Linked DNA regions of Homo sapiens. The protein of the gene in region 1 interacts with the protein of each later gene in a pairwise test. Each region holds a gene or a part of one and is shown in the gene's direction. Other genes may lie near its edges. The genes, in order: CRYL1, BTG3 and ABCC6.

Evidence for each region.
Region 2: the proteins of CRYL1 (region 1) and BTG3 interact in a two-hybrid assay, tested with the Homo sapiens proteins (one large-scale study listed by BioGRID and IntAct).
Region 3: the proteins of CRYL1 (region 1) and ABCC6 interact in a two-hybrid assay, tested with the Homo sapiens proteins (one large-scale study listed by BioGRID and IntAct).

The regions. Positions count from the first base shown.
Region 1 is NC_000013.11:20,431,820-20,435,474, reverse strand, and holds part of CRYL1 (lambda-crystallin homolog), read left to right. Parts: intron 1-1,628; exon of another isoform or gene 1,629-1,697; intron 1,698-3,178; coding exon 3,179-3,373; intron 3,374-3,655. UniProt on the Homo sapiens protein: Has high L-gulonate 3-dehydrogenase activity. It also exhibits low dehydrogenase activity toward L-3-hydroxybutyrate (HBA) and L-threonate.
Region 2 is NC_000021.9:17,593,038-17,595,941, reverse strand, and holds the end of BTG3 (protein BTG3), read left to right. Parts: intron 1-1,609; coding exon 1,610-1,849; 3' UTR 1,850-2,289; downstream 2,290-2,904. UniProt on the Homo sapiens protein: Overexpression impairs serum-induced cell cycle progression from the G0/G1 to S phase.
Region 3 is NC_000016.10:16,181,953-16,185,607, reverse strand, and holds part of ABCC6 (ATP-binding cassette sub-family C member 6), read left to right. Parts: intron 1-573; coding exon 574-649; intron 650-2,677; coding exon 2,678-2,804; intron 2,805-3,019; coding exon 3,020-3,196; intron 3,197-3,655.

The DNA.
Region 1 (3,655 bases):
CCCAGCCGGGAGACCTCGAAGGTCCTTTTGCGGCGGCTTCCGTAGGTGGACACGGAGGTGTGGATGGAAGTCGGTGTGAATGGAAGTCTGTTTTGGGGGGCTGCGTGGGGCCCAGTCGCTGGCCCCTGCGTCCTAGTCAGCCGTGTGCCTTGTACAGTGGGCGCTGGGCAGCCCTTCAAGATTTTTCGTTGGAGAAGGCATGATCAAAGTCCTGTTTTTTACTTTTAAAATGTATAATTGTGGTAAAATATACATAACAAAATCTACCGTCTTAACTATTTGTAAGTGTGCAGTTTGGAGGCATTAAGGACATTCTCACTGGTGTGCAGCCACCACCACCAACAATCCATGGAACTTTCTCCTCTTATAAGACTGAACCTCCTACCCATGAAACACTAACTTTCCACAGCTCCACCCCAGCCGCGGCACCTGAACCTAGCTTTCTGCTGCTGCTGTGGATTTGATAGGCTCCCGCTACAACACGGATTGCTCTGGGAGGATGAGATAGAGGGGCTGAGACCCCAGCAGGAGTCCCATGAAGGGAGTGCAGAATATATATGGAAACGGGGGCCCTGAGCTGAGGGTGGCAGTGGCAATGATTTTTTTGAGAGAAGAGTAAAGAGAAGTAACAGGACTTCAGTAACTGATGGTGTGTCCGGAGTTGGTCTTGGTGGGTTGTGGTCTTGCTGACTTCGTGAACCACAGACTTGGTGGTGATTGTTAACAGCTCTTAAGGATAGCACGGACCCAAAGAGTAAGTGGTAGCAAGGTTTATTGTGAAGAGCAAAAGGACAAAGCTTCCACAGCAGGGAAAGACAGCGGAGTGGGTTAACGCTGCAGGTGGGGGTGTAGGGGTGTGGGTGGGGGGGCGCGTGTGGGTGTGGGTGGGCGGTAGGGGTGGGTGGGGGGAGTGACCAGCTTTTTTTCCCTAATTGGCCCCTCCCCTGTTCCATTTCTGTCCTATCAGAGTTCCCTTTTTTCAATCCTTCCCCCGATTAGCTACTTTTAGAATCCTGCTGATTGGTGCATTTTACAGAGCGCTGATTGGTGCGTTTTGCAGAGTGCTGATTGGTGCGTTTTACAGAGCCCCGATTGATGTGTTTTACAGAGCACTGATTGGTGCGTTTTACAGAGTGCTGATTGGTGTATTTTACAATCCTCTTGTAAGACAGGAAAGTTCCTGATTGGTGCATTTTACAATCCTTTTGTAAGACAGAAAAGCTCCCCAAGTTCACACTTGACCCAGGGAGTCCAGCTGGCCTCACCTCTCAATGGAAAGTGAGAGGGGCTAGGGAGAGGCAGGGGCCAGGAACATTTCTCCTGGTACTGACTTGGGTGTGGGGATGTGACACATTCTCACTGAGATCAGGAGCCTGCCAGGGTTGGGGACCATGGGGATAACCCACATGAGACAAGTCTGTGCTGGGGTGTGCCCAAGGGAAGGCGTCCAGCACTCAGTTGCAGATGTGGGCCAGGGTGAGGCTGGGATCTGTGTGAGACATGCAGGTGTATTCTGTGTCCTCAAGTCTTGGTGGTGGTGACACCAGGGAGTGGGCACAGATGGGCCACTGTGGCAGACTGGGGGTCACCATCACTCAGTGAAAGTGTGAGCAGGAAAAATCGCAGAGAAGACTGAGAGGAGGGAACTGGTGAGTTGTACATAGAAATGCTTTCTAACTCCTTGTCTCAGTCTGTTTTTGCTACCAGTGAGGCTTACAATGTTTGAAAGACCCCAATCCCAGCATGCCTGCTTTATATAAAATAAGGTAAAATTCATCTGAGAAAGACACACTTCCAGTTCTTCTAATCTTCATTTTTCAAAAGGTCAGAGGTTAAGCGTTTCTATAAGAATTCAGTAGGTGACAGGTGTTTAACCGAGGCATCGATTTACCATCTGTCTATTTGGAAACAGGAGCCGTCTTTTCTTGATTCCTGAGAGGGCAGAGCAGGTGCCCAGGATGGCCCTTATTTCTCCTTTCCTCTTCTGTGGGAGTCATCTTTAAATGGAAGCTTCTGCTCATGGAAGCATCACTTAGCAAATGTGACATTCTACCTATCACCCATGTAGTGGAGGAAAACCCATTGAAAAGCATCATTTCTGTTTGCTGTGGTATACTTGGCTCAGTGCTCAGGCCAGTCAGGTTCTACCAGGCACTGTTTTCTTTGGACATTTGATAACTCTCTGTGAGGAATCTCTAAGAACAGTTTCTCAAAGTAAACCAAGAACACCAGAGTTGAACAGTGAAGTCCAGGGTCCTCCCTTGGGGCATGCTCACCTGGACAATGCCTTCCTGTGTTGGGCTCGTCGGGGTGCTGGGGCTGCTGAGGTGTGTTGATGCCTGTTGATTTCTAGAGCAGGAAGGTGACATTAGACTGGAAGAGGCAGACACTTAAGGTACAATATGGAGGAATTAAGGAAATACCAGGTTTTGGGAAGACACTGCTAATAATTTATTTTTGAGATGATCTGGCACTGTCACCTAGGCTGGAGTACAATGGCACAATCATGGCTCACTGCAGCCTCCACTTCCTGGGCTTAAATGATTCTCCCACTTCAGCCTTCCAAGTAGCTGGGACTACAGGTACACAACACCACACCTAGCTAATTTTTTTATTTTTTGTAGAAACAGGGTCTCGCTGTGTTGCCTAGGCTGGTCTTGAACTCCTGGGCTCAAGTGATCCCTCCACCTCGACCTCCCAAAGTTCTGGGATTACAGGTGTGAGCCACCGCACCCAGCTTGCCAATAATTTTTAACACTGACACAGAAGAATGTCAGAGCCTGTGGTGACTGCAGATGGGAAGACATGATTCTGGGGGGTGGTGGGCTGGGAGGAAGCTTTGAAGACAAGACAGATGGGAGCAGAGAAACTCTGTCCTGGGGAGGCCAGGGGCTTGAAGATTAGCCATAAACATACAGGATAGCAAGCTGTTCCTCCAAATTCCAACTTTGTATTTTGGGTATTTTTTTTTAAACAAAACCACACAATTCTGCATCAGGTTCCCTTTTTCTCTCTCCTTTGTGAATAAATTTCTTTCTCAAGTATCTTGTTGTTGGCCACTGAATCTAAAGGCACCATTCCAAAGATGCATCTGCTGCTCCTGACCATTCAGGGTGGGTGCAGTTCCCCAAACCCAGGATCATCTCCTTGACTCCCCCACTTCTCTCTCTCTCCTAAGGTGAATCCGCCATACTACATCCCGCTGGTTGAGCTGGTCCCCCACCCGGAGACGGCCCCTACGACAGTGGACAGAACCCACGCCCTGATGAAGAAGATTGGACAGTGCCCCATGCGAGTCCAGAAGGAGGTGGCCGGCTTCGTTCTGAACCGCCTGCAATATGCAATCATCAGCGAGGCCTGGCGGCTAGTGGAGGTGTGTGTGCCCGTCCTCTCTCCCTCCCTCCCTTCCTTTCTCCCTCCTTCTTCCCTCCCTCTCAAAGTTGAGCAGGACAGTGAAAGTTGTTCCTTGGGCAGCCTGGAAGCTGGGAAAGTCAGAGGCTGCTTGCTTCTTCTTGCTCTATTCTGGAGACCAAGGGCCAGCTTTAGAACCAAAATAAAATGCAGCGATTCACTGTCTGCCTGAGAGGTTCTTCTTACAGTCACCTGATACCAGGACACGATGACAGGCTTCTCTCCTTCCTGCCCTTTCATAGCA
Region 2 (2,904 bases), on another chromosome or scaffold:
TGAAATGTTAGCAAGGATGTGAAGCAGCTAGATTCATAAACTTGCTAGTCATGTAAAATAGTACCACTACTTTGGAAAACTGGAACTTTTTAACGTTAAATGTGTAACTCTTCTATTACTCAGCAGTTCCACTCCTAAGTATTAAATATTTACCAAAAGAAACGAAAATATGCCTATAAAGCCTTCTATTAGAATTAACTGTGCTGTTATTCATTGCAGCATTGTTTTGTTCGTTGTGTATCATTGTTTTTTTAATAGTAAGAGACTGAAAACAGCCTCAATGTCCCATTACTAGGAGACCATTTAATTTATAGTCATTGCTATACTATCTAGCTGTAGAAAAATGAGAAGGATCTTTATGTATTGATATGTTTCTGAAATGTATTATTATGAAATGTAAAAAGCAGGATACAATCCAGTATACATATATATTTTTAAAGTGTGTATAGATGTGGATAGAATATCTCTAAAGGTATATTTAAAAAAATGTTTGGTGTCAGTTGCCCTTGAGAAGGGTTAAGATAAAGAAGATAAAGGGTGAGATAAAAAAAGAGGGACTTTCCACAGTTTACCCTTTTGTACTTTTTGAATTTTCTATCATGAATGCAATGCTATACACAATATAATTTTTTTAAAAAAATCCTATACTTAGAAATGCAGATTTGAGATCAGCAAAATCAGAAATTTAAGAAGATGTGGCATTCTAAGCAGAGAGGTCTAAAACTGCTGATAAGAACACTTTGAATAATGTGAACCTGACGTGCCCACCTGATTTATGGGATAATCTAAAACTATTATTCCCAAATACTAAACTGGCTACATCAGAATCACCTGGGGAGCTTTGTCAAAATACCTGGCCTCTAGTTCTGAGATTTTATTATTGTTCATTAGACCAGTGCTAGGGCATGAATGTTTTGTGTTTATCTTTTTTTTTTTTTAACTTTTATTTTAGGTTTAGGGATACACATGAAGGTTTGTTCCATAGGTAAACATGTGTCACAGGGATTTGTTGTACATATTATTTCATCACCCAGGTGTGAAGCCCAGTACTCAATAGTTATCTTTTCTGCTCCTTTTCCTTCTCCCACCCTCCCCTCTCAAATAGACTCCAATGTCTATTGTTTCCTTCTTTGTGTTCATAAGTTCTTATCATTACCTCCCACTTATAAGTGAGAACATGCGGTAGTTGATTTTCTGTTTCTGCATTAGTTTGCTAAGGATAATGGCCTCCAGCTCCAATGTTTTGTATTTAAAAGCCTCCAAGTGACTCCTGGCTTAGCCAGCTGTGGAAACCACTGGACTAAAACAAGCATGTCCTTACAAGCTTCCATTCGTTCCATGTTTTGGTCTTTTTTGGTTGAAGTTGTTTAGGAAGTACTGTGTTTGAGTTTATTCATTTCTTTATGCATTCAGAAAACATTGGTCACCTGTTATACATTATACGCCTATTACACATGAGGTTTTTAATGTATTTAGACCTGACAATAGGAGTGTCACTTAGATGTGATCTCAGTGTTGTGGGTAACTTTGTTTGTCTTTAATGAGAAATCTGGAACATAGATGATGATTTTTTCCTTTGAATTAACTTAATGTGTTCTCTTCCCTACAGATTTCAGAACTTATATTTCCACCTCTTCCAATGTGGCACCCTTTGCCCAGAAAAAAGCCAGGAATGTATCGAGGGAATGGCCATCAGAATCACTATCCTCCTCCTGTTCCATTTGGTTATCCAAATCAGGGAAGAAAAAATAAACCATATCGCCCAATTCCAGTGACATGGGTACCTCCTCCTGGAATGCATTGTGACCGGAATCACTGGATTAATCCTCACATGTTAGCACCTCACTAACTTCGTTTTTGATTGTGTTGGTGTCATGTTGAGAAAAAGGTAGAATAAACCTTACTACACATTAAAAGTTAAAAGTTCTTACTAATAGTAGTGAAGTTAGATGGGCCAAACCATCAAACTTATTTTTATAGAAGTTATTGAGAATAATCTTTCTTAAAAAATATATGCACTTTAGATATTGATATAGTTTGAGAAATTTTATTAAAGTTAGTCAAGTGCCTAAGTTTTTAATATTGGACTTGAGTATTTATATATTGTGCATCAACTCTGTTGGATACGAGAACACTGTAGAAGTGGACGATTTGTTCTAGCACCTTTGAGAATTTACTTTATGGAGCGTATGTAAGTTATTTATATACAAGGAAATCTATTTTATGTCGTTGTTTAAGAGAATTGTGTGAAATCATGTAGTTGCAAATAAAAAATAGTTTGAGGCATGACAACGCGTGTTTCTGTTGTGTGCATAAAAGGGGAAAAGAACGGGTATTTCCCTTCAATGTATTTAACTAAATAGCAAAAACATTAAACAGAACGTAAGAATTTTAAAATTTCCTTTGAAAAATCAACTATTAACCATACTTTTCCTAAAAGACCACATATCAGAATATGCATATGAAAAGTTAAAAATTTGTTAGTGGTAGTTATTGAAAATATAATAAAACATCTTTTAACTATCAGTGTCACTATACATAGGGTTTTTTAACAAAGAATTTGGCTCGTACTAATTTTGACATGACATCTGACTTACATGTCTAATGCCATTGCATAAAGTAGATGTGTTCTTACAGCTGCTCTAATCTCTGTGCCTTGTGCTTTTTTTAAAAAACATTTAAGTCTTTACTAGAGGCCTAAAATAAAGTCAAATAATACAATACTTCAGATTCTTCAGTAGTCCATATTTATACAACTGTAATTCCATCAGTCTTGTAAGGGTACTTGAACTACAAAAAGAAAAAAAGAGATATCTCTATAAGAGTTTTGATTTTTCTCCAAAGGTAAATTTTTAAAAACTAAGATCAGCAATACTTTTTCCATCACCTTCATCTTTAAATTTG
Region 3 (3,655 bases), on another chromosome or scaffold:
TTTGCCATGTTGGCCAGGCTGGTCTCAAACTCCTGACCTCAAGTGATCCTACCACCTCTGCTTCCTAAAGTGCTGGGATTACAGGCATGAGACACTGTGCCGGCCACAGTGAAATTAATAACACCCCCTTCACTCTGGGAAGGCTGGGATTTGATGATAATTTATTTCAGAAATTCACTAACTTTTTCCATAAATGACCAGATTGTGCATATTTTAGGCCTGTGGGCCACACAGTCTCTGTCACAACTGCTCAAAGCATGAAATAGAGAAATGAATGGATGTGGCCGTGTTCCAATAAAACTTTATTTATAAGAAAAGGCAGCAGGCAGGATTTGGTCTCTGGGCCACAGTTTGCCTCCCCCTGGATTATGTAGCCATGGGACACGGACAGAACAAGAACCCTGCGGGGTCACCCACAAGCCAGTGAGTAGCAGGGCAATTTGTTCAGTGGGAGAGATTTCTTCCTGCAGCCTCTGCCCCTGGGGGGGGCGGGGGATGGTGCCTGGGGGCCTCTCCGATGCAGAGGCCGGCCAGGTCAGGGGTCTCCTGTAAATGGCCTCTTGTGCCCTGCAGCTGCCGGGAAGGATTGCATCACCATACACAGTGCCACCTTCGCCTGGTCCCAGGAAAGCCCTCCCTGCCTCCACAGGTACAGAACGACACCCGTAGTAACCAGCCTCATGTTTTTAGGGAGAAGATGCATGGGGCTCCTGCTGCCTCCCACCTGAGAGGTGGTGTAGGTTTCCAGCCTGGGACTGGAGGGTGGGTTTGGCTGGGCTGGGGCTCTGCCGGGGAGGTTCTCAGGATACATCTCTACCTCCTGAAGGTGGGGACCTGCACAGCATAGACCAGTATCTCCTGCAGACGGGGACCAGGGCATCTGAGCCTCCCCCATTAGGGGGAGACACCCCTGTGCTCCCAGGCTGGCCAAGACGATGCCAAGGGAGGGCTGGCTGAGAGGAGCCCCAAGGTTCAGCCCTATCAGCTGTGCTCACTTCTGTGCCTCCTGTATCAGTCCGAGGTCATGATCATCTATAGTCTCCAACTCTATCGCTTGGTCTTTGTGGCCAAAAATCTCAGACAGCCCTGAAACTCCCTAAGAAGAGAAGGAATATGCCCCAGGTAGTATTTGTATTGGTTGTCATTCACTCACTTCATCGATAGAGCACTAGGTATGGGCCACGCTCTGTTCTAGGTATTGGGGATAGGGCGAAGGAAACAGACAAGGGCCCTGCTCTCGTGGGGTGACATGCTGATAGAGGTGAGGCCCAAACAGAAAACCAGAGCAAGGGAACAGAGTACGATGGCATGTCTAGCGAGGGAAGGCTTTGCATTCAAGCCGAGATCATAAGGAAGGAGTGTCTGGGAGAAGAGCTGTTCTTTTTTTTTTTTTTTTTTTTTTTTTTTTTGAAACGGAGTCTTGCTCTATCACGCGGGCTGGAGTGCAATGGCATGATCTCGGCTCACTGCAACCTCCACCTTCCGGATTCAAGCAATTCTCCTGCCTCAGCCTCCCGAGTAGCTGGGATTACAGGCGCATGCTACCACACCCAGCTAATTTTTGTATTTTTAGTAGAGATGGGTTTTACCATGTTCGTCAGGCTGGTCTCCAACTCCTGACCTCAAGTGATCCACCTGCCTCAGTTCCCAAAGGACTAGGATTACAGGCATGAGCCACCGTGCCCGGCCTGGGAGAAGAACCTTCTAGGCGGTGGGAATGGCATCAGCAAAGGTCCTGGGGCAGGAGAGTGCCTGGACCTGGGTTTCTCAACCTCAGCACGGTTGATATTTTGGGCTGAAACTCCTTTGTTGGGGGCTGTCGTGTGCATTGTGGGATGTTTAGCTGACCCCAGTCTCTACCCACTAGATGCCAGCAGCACCCCCTACTGGTTGTGACATCCAAAAATATCTCTAGATCTTGCCAAATGACTCCTGGGGGATGCAGTCACCCCCTGGTGAGAACCACTGGCCTTTTGTGTTCAAGAAACAGCAAGGAGGTCAGCAAGGCCAGGGCCGAGCAGCTGAGGCACAGAGCGGAAGGAGGCGGGAGATGTCATTCCTGATCGTCAGGACTTTAGCTTTGACCCTGAGTGAAATGGGAGTGCTGGCGGGTTTAGCTGGGAAGTGTCACGATCTGACTTGGGTTTTAACAGATCCCTCTGGTCACTGGGTGGAGGATGGGCTGTGGGACGTGGACAGGAGTGGGGCGGGACCAAGAGTAGCGGGAGGGAGGGAGGAAAGAGCCTATTTATCGCAAGAGCCAAGGCAGGAGGCCAGGCTGGTGAAACCCTCAGGCTATAGTCAACCCTGTGTGTGTGTGCGTGGTGTGCATGTGTGCACACATGTATGCGTGTGAGCATGGATTGATTGGGTATGTGCATGCACTTGTGTGTGTGTGGATGCGTGCCCACATTGTGTTGCTGTGCATGCTAGCATGCTTGTATGAGTGTGCAAATGTGCATGCATGTGTGCACGCTTTGTGTGCATGTGTACATGCACAGATGTGCACAGGATAGTTCCTCAAATAGCTAGACAAGGACTGGGAAAAAGAACAGCCCCACAGGTCCTCTTGGAGACTCCCAGAGCAGGAAAGCTCAGCTCCGTCTGGGGCTCATCCTTCCTCACAGAGGCGGGCTGAACCCTAACCAAGGTCATGTCTCCCCTCTTGCGTGTCCAGAATAAACCTCACGGTGCCCCAGGGCTGTCTGCTGGCTGTTGTCGGTCCAGTGGGGGCAGGGAAGTCCTCCCTGCTGTCCGCCCTCCTTGGGGAGCTGTCAAAGGTGGAGGGGTTCGTGAGCATCGAGGTGAGGCCACCCCCAGCCTGTCTGCTAGGATGTCCCCATCCTGAAAGTCCCACTTCCTCGCTGCCTTCCCACCCTCCCCATCCCAGCCAAGTTCACTTTCACTCATTCTCTCCACCTCTCACCCACCACTGAGAGCCCAGCTCCCACTGCTCCTCAAAACCTATCCCACCTCTGTCCCCATCATCCTCCTGTGACCAAAGTAAGTTGTGTTTTAGGGTGCTGTGGCCTACGTGCCCCAGGAGGCCTGGGTGCAGAACACCTCTGTGGTAGAGAATGTGTGCTTCGGGCAGGAGCTGGACCCACCCTGGCTGGAGAGAGTACTAGAAGCCTGTGCCCTGCAGCCAGATGTGGACAGCTTCCCTGAGGGAATCCACACTTCAATTGGGGAGCAGGTGAGAGTTTGGGGGTCTTTTTGGGACAGGGAGACATTGCAGTTGGGAGTCATTTGGGTCCCCGACTCATCATGGGCAGTATGATGGAGAAATGAGAGGAATGGTTAGGGAAGTAGCGGAGAAAAAGGGCTCAGCTCAGCGTCAAGCACGTGCTAGGTGCTCAATACGTAATCACTAATTGATAAGCAGAAATAGACACAAAGAGAGAGGCAGGGAGTTGTGGCAGGGATTGGCAGTGAGGAGCTCTCTGACAACTGAGAGTGAGAAGACCTAGACTCCTGTCTTACTCTGCCCTGCCTTGCTGAGTAATGTTGGTGTAATTGCTTCCCCTCTCTGGGCCTCACCAAGGGGTCTGGACAGAGATGTCCAAGAAACAGGATATATGCATCTGGAGCTATGGATTGGGCAGGGGTTGGCAAACTGTGACCCCAAGCCAAATCCAGCCCACCACTTGTGGTT